Homo sapiens: one gene and its partners. The protein of the gene in region 3 interacts with the protein of the main gene of each other region in a pairwise test. Each region holds a gene or a part of one and is shown on either strand. Other genes may lie near its edges.

The links. The genes of interacting proteins can lie anywhere in the genome.
Region 1: the proteins of NFIL3 (region 3) and MAFF come close enough for resonance energy transfer, tested with the Homo sapiens proteins (one large-scale study listed by BioGRID and IntAct).
Region 2: the proteins of NFIL3 (region 3) and HLF come close enough for resonance energy transfer, tested with the Homo sapiens proteins (one large-scale study listed by IntAct).

What each region holds. Positions count from the first base shown.
Region 1 is NC_000022.11:38,214,222-38,217,256, reverse strand, and holds the end of MAFF (transcription factor MafF), read right to left. Parts: intron 2,838-3,035; coding exon 2,379-2,837; 3' UTR 750-2,378; downstream 1-749. UniProt on the Homo sapiens protein: Since they lack a putative transactivation domain, the small Mafs behave as transcriptional repressors when they dimerize among themselves.
Region 2 is NC_000017.11:55,320,181-55,324,208, reverse strand, and holds part of HLF (hepatic leukemia factor), read right to left. Parts: intron 3,549-4,028; coding exon of another isoform or gene 3,546-3,548; coding exon 3,330-3,545; 3' UTR 1-3,329.
Region 3 is NC_000009.12:91,412,906-91,418,645, reverse strand, and holds part of NFIL3 (nuclear factor interleukin-3-regulated protein), read left to right. Parts: exon of another isoform or gene 1-3,080; intron 3,081-5,740.

The DNA.
Region 1 (3,035 bases), on a different chromosome or scaffold from region 3:
TGCCTCAGCCTCCCAAAGTGCTGGGATTACAGGCGTGAGCCACCGCACCCGGGCCATGTTTTTTTTTTGTTGTTGTTGTTTTTTGTATTTTTAGTAGAGACGGGGTTTCACCATGTTGGTCAGGCTGGTCTTGAACTCCTGACCTCAAATGATCCACCCGCCTCAGCCTCCCAAAGTGCTGGGATTACAGGTGTGAGCCACTGCGCCCGGCCTGTTTTCTTACTTTTAAATTTCTTGTAGAGATGGGGGTCTTGCTATGTTGCCCAGCCTGGTCTCAAACTCCTGGCCTCAAGTGATCCTCCCACCTCAGCCTCTTCAGTAGCTGGAACAATAGGCATGTGTACCACCACATGTGGCTAATTATTTTTTATTTTTTGTAGAGATGGGGTGTCACTATGTTGCCCGGGTTGCTCTTGGACTCCTAGTCTCAGATGATCCTCTTGCTTCAGCCTCCCAAAGTGCTGGGATTACAGGTGTGAGCCACCATGCTCCGCCAGAATCCAGTCCTAAATTTCATTGTGCCCATGGCTTTGTCTTCCCAGGAGCTCCTGTGCTCTAAGCAACCAAGAGGAAGCATCGAAGTTTCAGCATCACTGGTCTCTGTCGCCATCTCCCCTCCACCTCATACCCTGTGCAATAGCTGGTGATGTGCACTAGCCCTCCCCGCCACCAGAAGCCCTAAGGGGTTGAAAGCAGAACCCCATTTTAGACACCCCTCGCCAAAAAACATAGTCCAGGATACACATTTATTCTCTGTGGAAAAAGAAAGAATTTGACTTTATTTAGAAAGTCTACAAAATACAGAAGACGATAACTCGCTTGCTGTAAGTCAGGAAATAAATAAATTCTAGGAGCCGGGCAATATTTTTTAACTTTTTTTTTGAGACAGGATTTTGCTATGTTGCCCAGGCTGGAGTGCAGTGGTGCGATCTCAGCTCACTACAACCTCTGCCTTCTGGGCTTAAGTGATCCTCCTGCCTCAGCCTCCCAAGTAGCTGGGACTACAGGCATGAGCCACCATGCATGGCTAATTTTTGTATTTTTTGTAGAGATGGGGTTTCACCATGTTGTCCAGGCTGGTCTCAAACTCCTGGACTCAAGCGATCCCCCTCCTTGGACTCCCAAAGTGCTGGGATTACAGATGTGAGCCACCGCGCCCGGCTTAAACATTTTTTGTTGTTGCTCTCCGGCTTTCCCTAAATATAAGATAAAATGTGATTTATTTGCAGATATAAAATATAAAGCCCAGCTCAGGGCCATACGCCACTTTTCCCAGGGAGCAGGAGCTCGGGCTCTGGCTGGGGAGAATAACTTAGATCCGTGCAATAAATAAACAGTGGGGAGGGGCAGTGTGGACAGTGTTGGGGGAGGGACTGAGACTGGGCTTCCCAGGAGAATGACAATCAAAGGCAGGGGTCAGCCCCCACCCCACAGTGGACACTGACAGGGGTTGAGGTGGGACCCTTCTTCTTAGGACCCCACTCCAGACTGTAGTAGGACTGCAGGGTCTGTCTCCTTGTCTCCCTATTTGCCACAGCAGTCCATGGCCCCCTTTCTCTGACTGGCCAGCCCCCGGACACCCTGGCTGCAGGGACAGCCTAGGGCTGAGCCAGGCCAGCTCCTTCCCACTCTTCCATCCGTGTCACCTTCTCTCTCCCTCTGCTTCTCTCCCCCTCCCTTGCAGAGAGCGGTCTCCCAAGCCAGGGAGGCCCTCCCACCACATTTCTGAGTCCCTGTCCACTGTCCCCCTGAAAACCATGGCTGGACTCAGGGCAGCAGTGAGGACACCCAGGTTTTGGTCCCAACACAACCACTAAGTGAAATGTGACCTCAGGCCTGTTTCCCCATCCGTGAACTGGGTTTCACTAGTCTTCCCACCCACTCTTTTAGTTTCGGAAGGCCAGGCACCCCCAGGCCCAACCAGAGGTGGGGGCATCTCTTCAGTGCAATTTCTCAGCAGGACGGTCCCGTAAGTCACAGACAGCCAAACCTAGCTTTGAATCCTGGGAGGGTTTGGAGGGCATATTGGCACAATAAGAGCAGTTTCCAAGATGAGGGGTGCCCTCTTCTCCCCCAACAGCTGTTCTCTAAGCCGGCTCTGTATCTCTCAATCTAAAAAGGCTAAACTTTCAGCCAAGGGCGATCCCAGATCCAGACCTCTGCCCCATCCCCAACCTACCCAAGTTCCCCTTCCCAGGGTCATTCGGTCCCAGTTTGGGGGGCTGCAAGAGGAAGACAGGGCCCACGAAGGGAATGTGTGTGCACCAAGGGGCCAGTGCTGCAGAGAAATGGGACCTGGGCACAGAGGCGGCGCTCAGGCACTTTGGGGAGGGAGCTGAGGCCGGAGGGGCGTGGCTGAGGCATGGCGGGGGCGGGCACTAGGAGCAGGAGGCCGGGCCGTGGGCGGGGTCCGGGCCGTGGGCGGGGCCAGACCCCGAGCCCGGGGTGGACTTGACGATGGTGATGACGCTGGCCGGCGCCACGAGCGTGGCGGGCCCGCGGGCGGCGGCCACGGAGCGCGCGAAGCCCTGCAGCGCCTCGCACTTGCCGCGCAGCGCGTCGAGCTCCAGGCGCATGGCGGCGTTCTCGCGCGCCAGCTTGTCCACCTCGCGCTCCAGCTCCGACTTCTGCTTCTGCAGCTCCTCCTTCTGGCACACGCGCTTCACGCGGCAGCTGGCGGCGTAGCCACGGTTTTTGAGTGTGCGGCGCCGCTGCTTGAGCCGTGTCACCTCCTCGGCGGAGAGCCCGCGCAGATGCCGGTTCAGCTCGCGCACCGACAGCCCCATCAGCGCCTCGTCCGACAGGTGCGGCGTGTTCTCGCTCAGCTCTCGCTTGATCTGCGGGCATGAGGAAACTGAGGTCCAGGGGACTGGGGACGGGCCCCCCCGCTCCACCCGCGGTGTTCCTCTTTCACCGCCTTAGCCGCCGAGGTGGTGGGTGGACTTGATCCAAAACCCCGAAGGGGAGCAGGAATCCGGGAAGGGGAAACCGGGCCAGACTAGGATCGGGACACAAAAGGAGGCCACCCCGGGGCT
Region 2 (4,028 bases), on a different chromosome or scaffold from region 3:
TGTACTCTCCTCAAAGGGTCCTTCTGCTTTGAGGGATGGGTCAGTGGAGGCCTGTTGTATTTGAAGACAAAAGGCCTATCACAGTCTTGCCTAATGTGGTATTTGAATGGTTCAAAGTGGCCACTTCCTGAAGAGAAAGAAGTAATGATCTACAGCCCTCCCCTCAACAAACTACCTCCTTAAGGCAGCACCAGCAGAAAGATAGGCTGGTCAATTTTTGCCTTTCTTTGCCAAGTCTAGTTAAAAGAAACAACAATGTGACCTCATCAGGAGGTCCTAAGCTGTTCCTTCCAAATCATGTCTAGATGATGTCAGTATGATATGATTTGGATTCATTGTTAATGGCCAAATAATTAATCTCTGAAAGATGCTTAGGATGAAAAGGTGAAAAATGACAAAGGGACTCTCATAATAGCTGCAGCGTGCAGACATGCGTCTGACTCCGGTTGACCCAAATCACTCAGAGTCAAGCCATGGCCTCCCGCTCCATGAAGCAGATCTGCCTTGTTTGCTAGTTAACTGCCCTGGATGGAGAGGCAGCCAGTCCAGAGGGAGTGTTCGTGTGTGTGTATCGTGACAATGACCTACATATAAGGCACCTGTACAGACTCCAAAGTGTTTAAATTTGTAAGACGAGGTAGGTTTCTGAAACCTCTCCTGGCACACAAGAGAATACATTTTATTAGAATCTTTTTATTTTTTTCTGCAGAAAACATTTGAGATGCTCATTTGATATAAACATCTAATTCCAAGAGAGACCAGTGCTCAAATATAGTTTTTTCAGCTACCATTTGATACGGCCATAAATTTGGATGGTCCATGTTACAATCCTTCCACAATTCTCCACTTAAAGACATCATTTTTCTATGTTTTTAATGACTATTGCCATCTAACAATTCTACAATTCGCCTCTTTGCCTGTAAAAAGGCCAACTCTACGTCCACCTGTGTCTCATATTGCTATCTTTTATTTATCTCTGCTTAAGATTGCAAAAGTTTTTGATTTTATTATTCACCTGAACAATGTATTGCAATTCCAATACACCCCCATCTCTTGCTGTTATCTACAGCTTGTGACAAAATGAACACCTTGTAGAAATATCCTACTGGTTGGGTTTCCCAAGTCTATGACACTATGAGAGAAGCATTGCTGATGGATTGACGAGGAGACCACCAGATCATTAAAGGATTAGATACTCTGAAGGCAGGAAACTAGAAAATCCCATTGATGAAAGGATATTTTAATCTAGCGTAAAATGTTTCTTTGTCGTAACAGCAGAATTTCTTGACATTTTACAACTTAATGAAACAAAAGAACAATCATCTTTAAAGTCAAACATCTATCAAATTATAAACCAAACACATAGCACCGATATCAACCTCATAAAACGTGCGGGCCCGCAGGGTAGAAAAGAACTGTCTGGGGCACTGGCAGCAACGTGCCATTCCAGGAACTCAGAATTTCGAAGTGAACATTTTTGTGGCAGATGCTTTTCCTAAAAAACACTGTATCATCCAATAAATATTTGACTAAAATCCATTTTGTGCTTTTGGGTGACGTTAACTGACTTCTTTCTGAGGCCTAATAAGAAACAAGAAAGCTCCTTGTGTATTTTAGAGCAGGATTCGTCATCACAAGCCTCGATACTGTCATAAAATTTTAATTTAAAGCAGAAAACATGCTGATGTGTCAGTGATAGGGCTTAAAATATTAAAGACTTCAAAAACCCCCAAGCACTTCTTCTCTGTACAACATTGGTGAATATATATCTTTGCTATATAATTTTAAAACATGGAATAGTTTTCCTCTCCTCTTTTCTATATATAATATATGTCTTCCAAAATACATTGTCAGTATTTATATCTGAAAAATACTGTACAAAAAAGAACTTCCTATAATTACTCTGTATAAACATTAAACGATTTAATAATCTCTCCTTTTGGTCTATAGTAAACATTTAAATTGATTGGATTAACCACAGTTTGTGACAACACCATCCCCTTCTGAGATACACCAGTGTCTTTTACATTCATTTTTCAGAAGTCCACTTTATAAGAGCACATACGTTCAAAAGCAAACAGAGAATAAGAAACATAAGCTTCAGAATCATTAATTTATGAGGCATTCAAAAATGACACCACTAGGAAAAAGGGCCTTAGAAAACATCAACTTATTAACTTAATCAACTGATTTTCTTTTTAAAAACAACAAAGTATAATTCACAAAAATATATATATTACCAAAAAGTGGGAAAACTGAATCTTAAGTAACTGTTTTGAATGTCAAGAGGGATATGGAAAAAGTTAACTAGAAAAGTGGGGGCGAGGCAGGGTGTGAGGGAAGGGGAACAACAAAACCGAACACATCAATGTCAAAGGCTAATCCAAGACGCAGTTTTTGGCTCATGTACTGATAAATTAACCCCTCATCCTTAGACCTCCCATTTCCCTCTGCTTCCTTGTCCTAGGGAATAGTCTGGCCATGCTCAAATGCATTACTTTACTTTTTGTTTTTTAAAAGACAGTGAAATTCTTAGGTAGGGAAAATATCCTACGTCCACTAGTAATACTCAGGCAGCATGCTCTAGCGTACAATAGGATTATTGCTTTAGGTACAGACAGTGCAAAAACACACTCTGTGTTCTATTAATAGTACTCTTACTTATCTGGGGTTGGTAGAATTAAAAGGAAACTTAGTAGATAGCAGTAAGTAAATATGGGATCTAATAAATCTAAACAGCACTTTAATTTGAAGACGATTATCACCAAAACTGAAAGTAAGAGGAAAGCAACTTATAAAGGACTAGAGCTGCGGAGTAGTGCTAAGTTATTGTGTGCACCTCATTAGCATGGTAACTTACGGACTAAACAGAAACAAGAGCTTGTACTCTTAAAAACTGAGATCCACTATTTTACCAGGGCCCTTTTTAGTGAATCCAAGCAGAGAGTCCTGGAAGAGTAGGTAAGCTCGAACATGAAGCAAAGCTGAGGAGGCAGGAGTGAAGGAGGGAGGGGATGGGAGACCCGCGAGAGGGCTCCTCAGTCTAGTAAAGACATGGCACCTTTCTTTGTTGGAACTAAAAGACGATGAGAGGGCTACCTTAAAATGGCAAGAGCAAAGGAACACGCACACGCACATACCGCTGACCACACACATGAGCACAAGCACATATACACGCACACACACACAGATGCACACCAAAATGGGAGTCAGTTGTGTTTATGCCTCTGGTAAAGTGCTGATGTCAGAAAGGTTGGTTTGCGTGTGGTGCTATCAGACAGGAAACAAACTGTCCATCTATTCCAAAGCCAGCCTGCAAAAATGCCATCCTACAGGGGCCCGTGCCTGGCCTCATACTTGGCAAGTATGTTCTTGCATTTGCCCAGCTCCTTCCTCAAGTCAGCCACCTCCTGGCGGAGGGCCGAGTTCTCCTTCTCCAGGAACGAGGCCCGGATGGCGATCTGGTTCTCTTTCAGCCTCCGGGCGTCGCGGGAGCGCTTGGCTGCCATGTTGTTCTTTCTGCGCCTTGCCCAGTACTTGTCATCCTGCTCATTAGTTACAGAAGGGAAAAAGAAACAAGATATTAGATTTCAGCAAAGCCCAGTGCCAGCCAGGGCACGGGCAGGCTCCAGGATTGTGCAGAGGTGCCAGCCCGGGTTTCTTAGCTTGTGTCTCCTTCCTTTACAGTTTCTGCATGTCTGAGAGTGTGGCCCATGAGCCACACTTCCTTCTTGGAGCAAGGACCCACCGATCTGTCCCAACAGGCTCCTACTCTTTGCCCAGCAGAGGCGTGCTCAGTGAAGCAGAGATCAGAGGCTGGATGAAAGCAGGTGGCTCACCTCACCCTTAAATTACATTTCAACTTTCTTTACTCTCCCTGCTCAACATTTTAAGAACCCTTTTCCTTCAAGGGCACTCATATGCTTTTTTGGGTATGAGTTGGTACAAAAATTTTAGAAGGCAATTTGGCAATATCTATCAACTATTTAAATGGATATACTATTCATCTAGCACTCCACTTCCAGGAT
Region 3 (5,740 bases):
GTAATTAACTGGCCTTCAAATAAACACTACAAATAAGCATTTGAAAATCCACTCTATTCATAAGGTAGAAAATGACATTTATAATCATCCACTGACTGGAAAAGTGGAAAAAGAAATTAAAAAGCCAAGTGAAGCAAGTTGGGATGATTCTACATTATCATTAGAAACTTTCAAGAATTTTCTCAGCCTGACTGTCCCCTTAGCCCACCATTTTTGCCATCATTACACCATGTTGCATGTATTACTTATTCATTGGGGAATTTTCTACAACTGGGTTACTTTGTGATTGTTGGTGTCCTTTTAAGATTTCAGATTAGTTGCTACACTGATCAGTTATCTTTTCAGAAGTTTCAAGATATTAATAGTCCCCACATTTAAGTTTCTATAGATTTTTAAAAAATTATTACTGTTCTGTTTTTCCCCCATGTTACTACCCATCTTTAGTGAGAGCTGTTCTTATTTCTCAAGCTGTGCAGTTAATTGGTCGTGCTAGCGTGTATGTGCTTACTCTGTGCAGGCTTCAGAATAATTTAATTGTGTATTAAGTTTCAAACACTGACGACCTCTTAAAGAAGAATGTTAAGTTATACTATTTCATATTTCAATTACTTAAATTACATCAGTGATGTAATAAAATGCAATGTTGTCATCGTATTTATTAAATTTAAATTTAATTTTCAGCTAGTCCTTTGTCGAACTTGAAATATTTTCATTTATCATAAACTGGATCAGGCTTTGACACATTTATTTACAGAGGCACCCAAATAGAAAAAGTAGGTCAATTTGTTGCTATGATAGAATAGATTCTGGCAGTGTGCGAGAGTGTGTGTGTATGTGTGTGTGTGCGTCTTGCCTGTCTTGATCAAGTGCACATTTCTCTCTAACTTTGGGGTAAGCTGCTTCTTGGGGACAGAATGGCCCTTAGAGAGGTTTAACATAGTTTTCTCAGCTTAAAAATCCTTCTCTTTTTCAACGGGATTAGAAAATTCTCTTGCAACTTCGGTGTTTTCTGACTGAGTTTTTTCACTCCCCATTTCCTCTGGGTTGTACATGTATAGTGAATTCTTTTCTTATTTCATCTCTGCTTTTAAATACTAGATTGTTTTCTCATCCATGAAAAGAAGTAAAGCATTTCATTGACGCAGATACTGTGAATTTTACCCACAGGAAGAAAATGTAGGGTTAACATATTGCTAGTATTCATACTTTAAAAGTATAAAGAGATGTGAATTGATTAATTGATTTGATTTTTTCATGAAAATGACATTTATCTAAAAAATAAGCATCTGCTGTCTTACTGGAGAGGTGGCTTACAGTTTAACATAACTTAGGTTTACCTTGAAGACATTTTTTTTTCCTTTACTGTTATCTGTATTATATAACAGGGAGAAAACAATACATTCAGAGAGTAGAGGGAAAATAAGATAATTCTATAATGTTTCCAAATCATTGGGCATATCAAATAGTATTTCATCTTCTATTGACAGAATTTTAAAAACAAAATATATATTGCAATTTGCAATAAAACTTACCCTTTATAGATAATTAATAACAAAATGTTCTCAGAGTAGATTTTAATGTTTAGACTATTAGTAAGATTTCAGATGATTGAAACAAAGCATGTTTATTCTTTTCTTTTGTGGAGCTTGGATTGTTAAACATTAGTTCTGGGAGAGACCAGGGAAGATAAAGGTCTATCATAAACATAACTAATGAGATAACTCCTCAAGGATAAATTTGGTCTAGAATTATTGTTATGAGGTTATATTCTTTTATAGAATTTTCTAAATCAAATCTTGTACTTAATTAAAAACAATAGGGTAATCTGACTTAAACTTTAAAAATCTGGGCTTATGAAATATAATTCTTGCTATATAATTCTTGCTTAGAGAAGTAGTGTGATGGACTATACAAAAGCATTAATTAGTGATGGCACCTTCGGAGTATGTATGGAAAAATATGTCAACTGGTAGGTAATAATACCTGCTCTTAAATTTCTCTTTTTTATTTGTGTTTTCAAGGAGAGTCATATCATCTAATGTGTGTAATGAAGTTAATCGTGCTGAATACACTAACATCATAGAATTGGCATGTAGTGTCAATTATTCACCAAAAAAGAAACTTAAGCAATGACTAATATACCACAACATTAGATGTTGATTTGAAAAGATGATGCATAGATGAAGTAATTGTTAAATTAATCATAAGGGAAAATATTGAGGCTTGAAATAAATTTGTTAGGTTAGCATAAATCCTGAGGCTTTTTGAAGGCATCGTAAACTACTTTTGCATTTGCTTTAAGTTCATTGTTGAGGGGCATAAGGAGAGCTCAGAGCCCATCTGTGCCCAACTGCTGTGTGGTCTTGGGAAGGTCAGCCTGTCTTCTAGCTGATTAATCTGCAAAATGAGAGGGTCAGAGAGACACTGTCCCCCGCCTCATGTTGAAAACAGATTACACTCTTGGATTTGTTAAAAAAAAAAAAAAAAGAAGAAGATCATAGGTGACAATGTCCACAGCTATCATATTTCTTTTTCTCTATTTAACATAATTAGAATAGCCAGGAGGTTAAAATTTTAGTAAAGATATGAAAATTAATAAAATGTTTTCTCAATTCATAAATAGTGCCAGATCTGAAACATCTAAGGAGGATGGAGAAAAGTTCTAGATAGTATCTTTGCTGGCTAAAGAAGTTAAGACAGCATCTAAGAGAAGTTAAGGAGCCAGGCGTGACGGCTCACGCCTGTAATCCCAGCACTTTGGGAGGCTGTGGCAGGCGGATCACCTGAGATCGGGAGTTCAAGACCAGCCTGACCAACATGGAGAAACCCCGTCTCTACTAAAAATACAAAATTAGTTGGGCATGGTGGCGCATGCCTGTAATCCCAGCTACTTGGGAGGCTGAGGCAGGAGAATCGCTTGAACCCAGGAGGTGGAAGTTGTGGTGAGCCAAGATCGCGCCATTGCACTCCAGCCTGGGCAACAAGAGCAAAACTCCTTCTCAAAAAGAAAAAAAAAAAAAAAGAAGAAGTAGTTAAGTTAGCATAGTGCCTTACTGCGCCCAAAGTAACTTAGTAAAAGGGTATGTATTACTCAGAAATGAAAGTGACACAAAAGAGAACTGTGTGTAAATGAGACTGCATTGCAAAGATGCAGAACCACCTGTGAAAGTGTAGGAGAGAGTAAAGGAACTGGGCCTGAATGTACGCTCTGCCATTTAGCTATGTGACACTGGGCAAGTCACTTGACTTCTCTGAGCCTTAGTTTTCTTATCTGAAAATTGTCACCAAAAGTGAATGAAAGAAAGCAGGTCAGGCTCCCAGTGCCCATTCTGTGGTAAGTGTTCAATAAATGGCACCAATTATGATTGTTTTTGTTATTATCTCCATGACAAGAAGAAAGCCTGCACCCCAGGCCCATGTTTGTGCAACTCTGCACTCACACCTGGTTCCCCTCTGCTCACCTGTTTGTCTCCCACCCACCCACGACTGAGCGCCTGGTCTCGGGAGTTTGGTTTTTCTCTCCCTCTTTATGTGCCCCTAGTCTCCCCTTGTGCCCAGTACACAGTAGGTGCTCCATATGTGTTGAATAAACAAATTAATGAATAAGAGAATCTCTCTGTTAATAAGTAAAATATCTTCTTTACAATTCACATAACATTAAAAAGAAAGCATCAAAAAAGTTTTCTGTTTACAAAACTCTCTTATATAAGGTATATGGGTGACTGTCAATGAAATGTTGAGCACCTAATATCTTCAGGTTTTTGCTAGAAGACAAGTATATTTTAATTTCCGCCCTGAAGTAATTCGCAGTGTAGTTGGGCACAAAAGACAAACACGTGGAAACACACACAGTGTATATGATTGTGCCTGTCTCCGTATCATCCCATAATGCTGATAAACTCTTTTCAACACTGCAAGATTATTTGATAGATAATATTACAGAAAATATCCTAAGATAGTGTGGTGATTTGCCATTGAGTTGTAGAGACCATGAATGTAATACATACAGATGAGAGCAGAATCACAGATTTATAGTGACATGCCATGAAATTCAAATAGGAAGAAGATGATTAAAAACAAATGAGGTGGCCTGGCGAGGTGGCTCACGCCTGTAATCCCAGCACTTTGGGAGGCCAAGGTAGGCAGATCACCTGAGGTCGGGAGTTCAAGACCAGCCTGAACTCCCCATGGAGAAACCCCATGGAGTTTCCCCATCTCTACTAAACCCCATCTCTACTAACATGGAGAAACCCCATCTCTACTAAAAATACAAAAGTAGCTGGGCTTAGTGGCACATGCCTGTAATCCCAGCTACTTGGGAGGCTGAGGCAGGAGAATTGCTTGGACCCTGTAGGCAGAGGTTGCGGTGAGCCAAGATCGTACCATTGCACTCCAGCCTGGGCAACAAGAGTGAAACTCTGTCTCAAAAACAAAAAAGCAAATGAAGTTTTCTGTAGGTTAATGTACCAACAAAGTTGTAGAGATGATAAAGTAGTCATATAGTACTTAGACACCTAGAAGACATGAGTTAAGGAAATTTTAAGACAAATGGGGCTATTTCAGTTAAATAGAAATAGGACCTATTGTGAAGGCTCCTTCCCAATTGGGCCCCAACCTTGAAAAGGTCCTAGAAGTTTAGGAAGAGTAACTAAGGCAGACAGAATGGCGGGGCATTTCAAAAGCATTACTGTAAATCTAGTAAGTGAGGCAAAATAAAGGAATCTGATTTTTTTTTTTAAGAAGGAACAAATAAGATAACACATGGAAGAGAAAGATTCTCAGGTGGAGAAAATAACCAGAATAATAGTCTGCAAGGGATCATATGATGTTTAAAAACTAAAAGTGGAAAAAAGTAGTGGCCAAGAGTATAGTGGAGATTTGAAAGGTGCCTTGGGAAAGGTCAGTGCAATTGTCTTCTTTAACTGGGATATCTTCCTCTTTACTTCTCCACTCATTTTACTTTAGCAGGAGGACTTTGCTGAATGGCAGAGTGCAGACTTCAACAGAGGAAAGAATCCATTCAATATGTAAAGGAAACTGGGTTTTCATATTAGAGGACAAAACCTAAATGCAAATTAGAGGAAATAGTATTGTTGGCCGGGCGTGGTGGCTCATGCCTGTAATCCCAGCACTTTGGGAGTCCGAGGCAGGCAAATCACCTGAGATCAGGAGTTCAAGACCAGCCTGACCAACATGGTAAAATCCCGTCTCTACTAAAAATACAAAAAAATTAGCTGGGCGTGGTGGCGCGTAACTGTAACCCCAGCTACTCAGGAGGCTGAGGCAGGAGAGTCGCTTGAGCCTGGGAAGCAGAGGCTGCAGTGCACCAAGATTGCACCACTGCACTCTAGCCTGGGCAGCAGAGCGAGACTCTTATCAAAAAAAAAAAAGGAAATAATATTGTTTAAATGATAAATAGGAAGATTCCTTCTCTGCAACATCACTGCTGACTGTGACACACTCCTTGCCTTCATTTCCTATTAAAGTTTCATTACCAAAAAACAAACAGAAACTTGATATTAATAATCACAAATTTCTCTGAGTTACGACTAGCTGTTCCCTTAACTATGTTGGCTCAGTTTAATGGGCAAAAACCTGGCATGAAACATTATTCTTTATGATCCTGAAATTATTACATAATTCCTTTCATTCCCTGGAAAAGACAAAAGAAGCTGGCAGGCTTTTCCAATTGATAAAAGTAAACTTCATTTTATTAGTCATTATGAAACTAGGCGTAAGA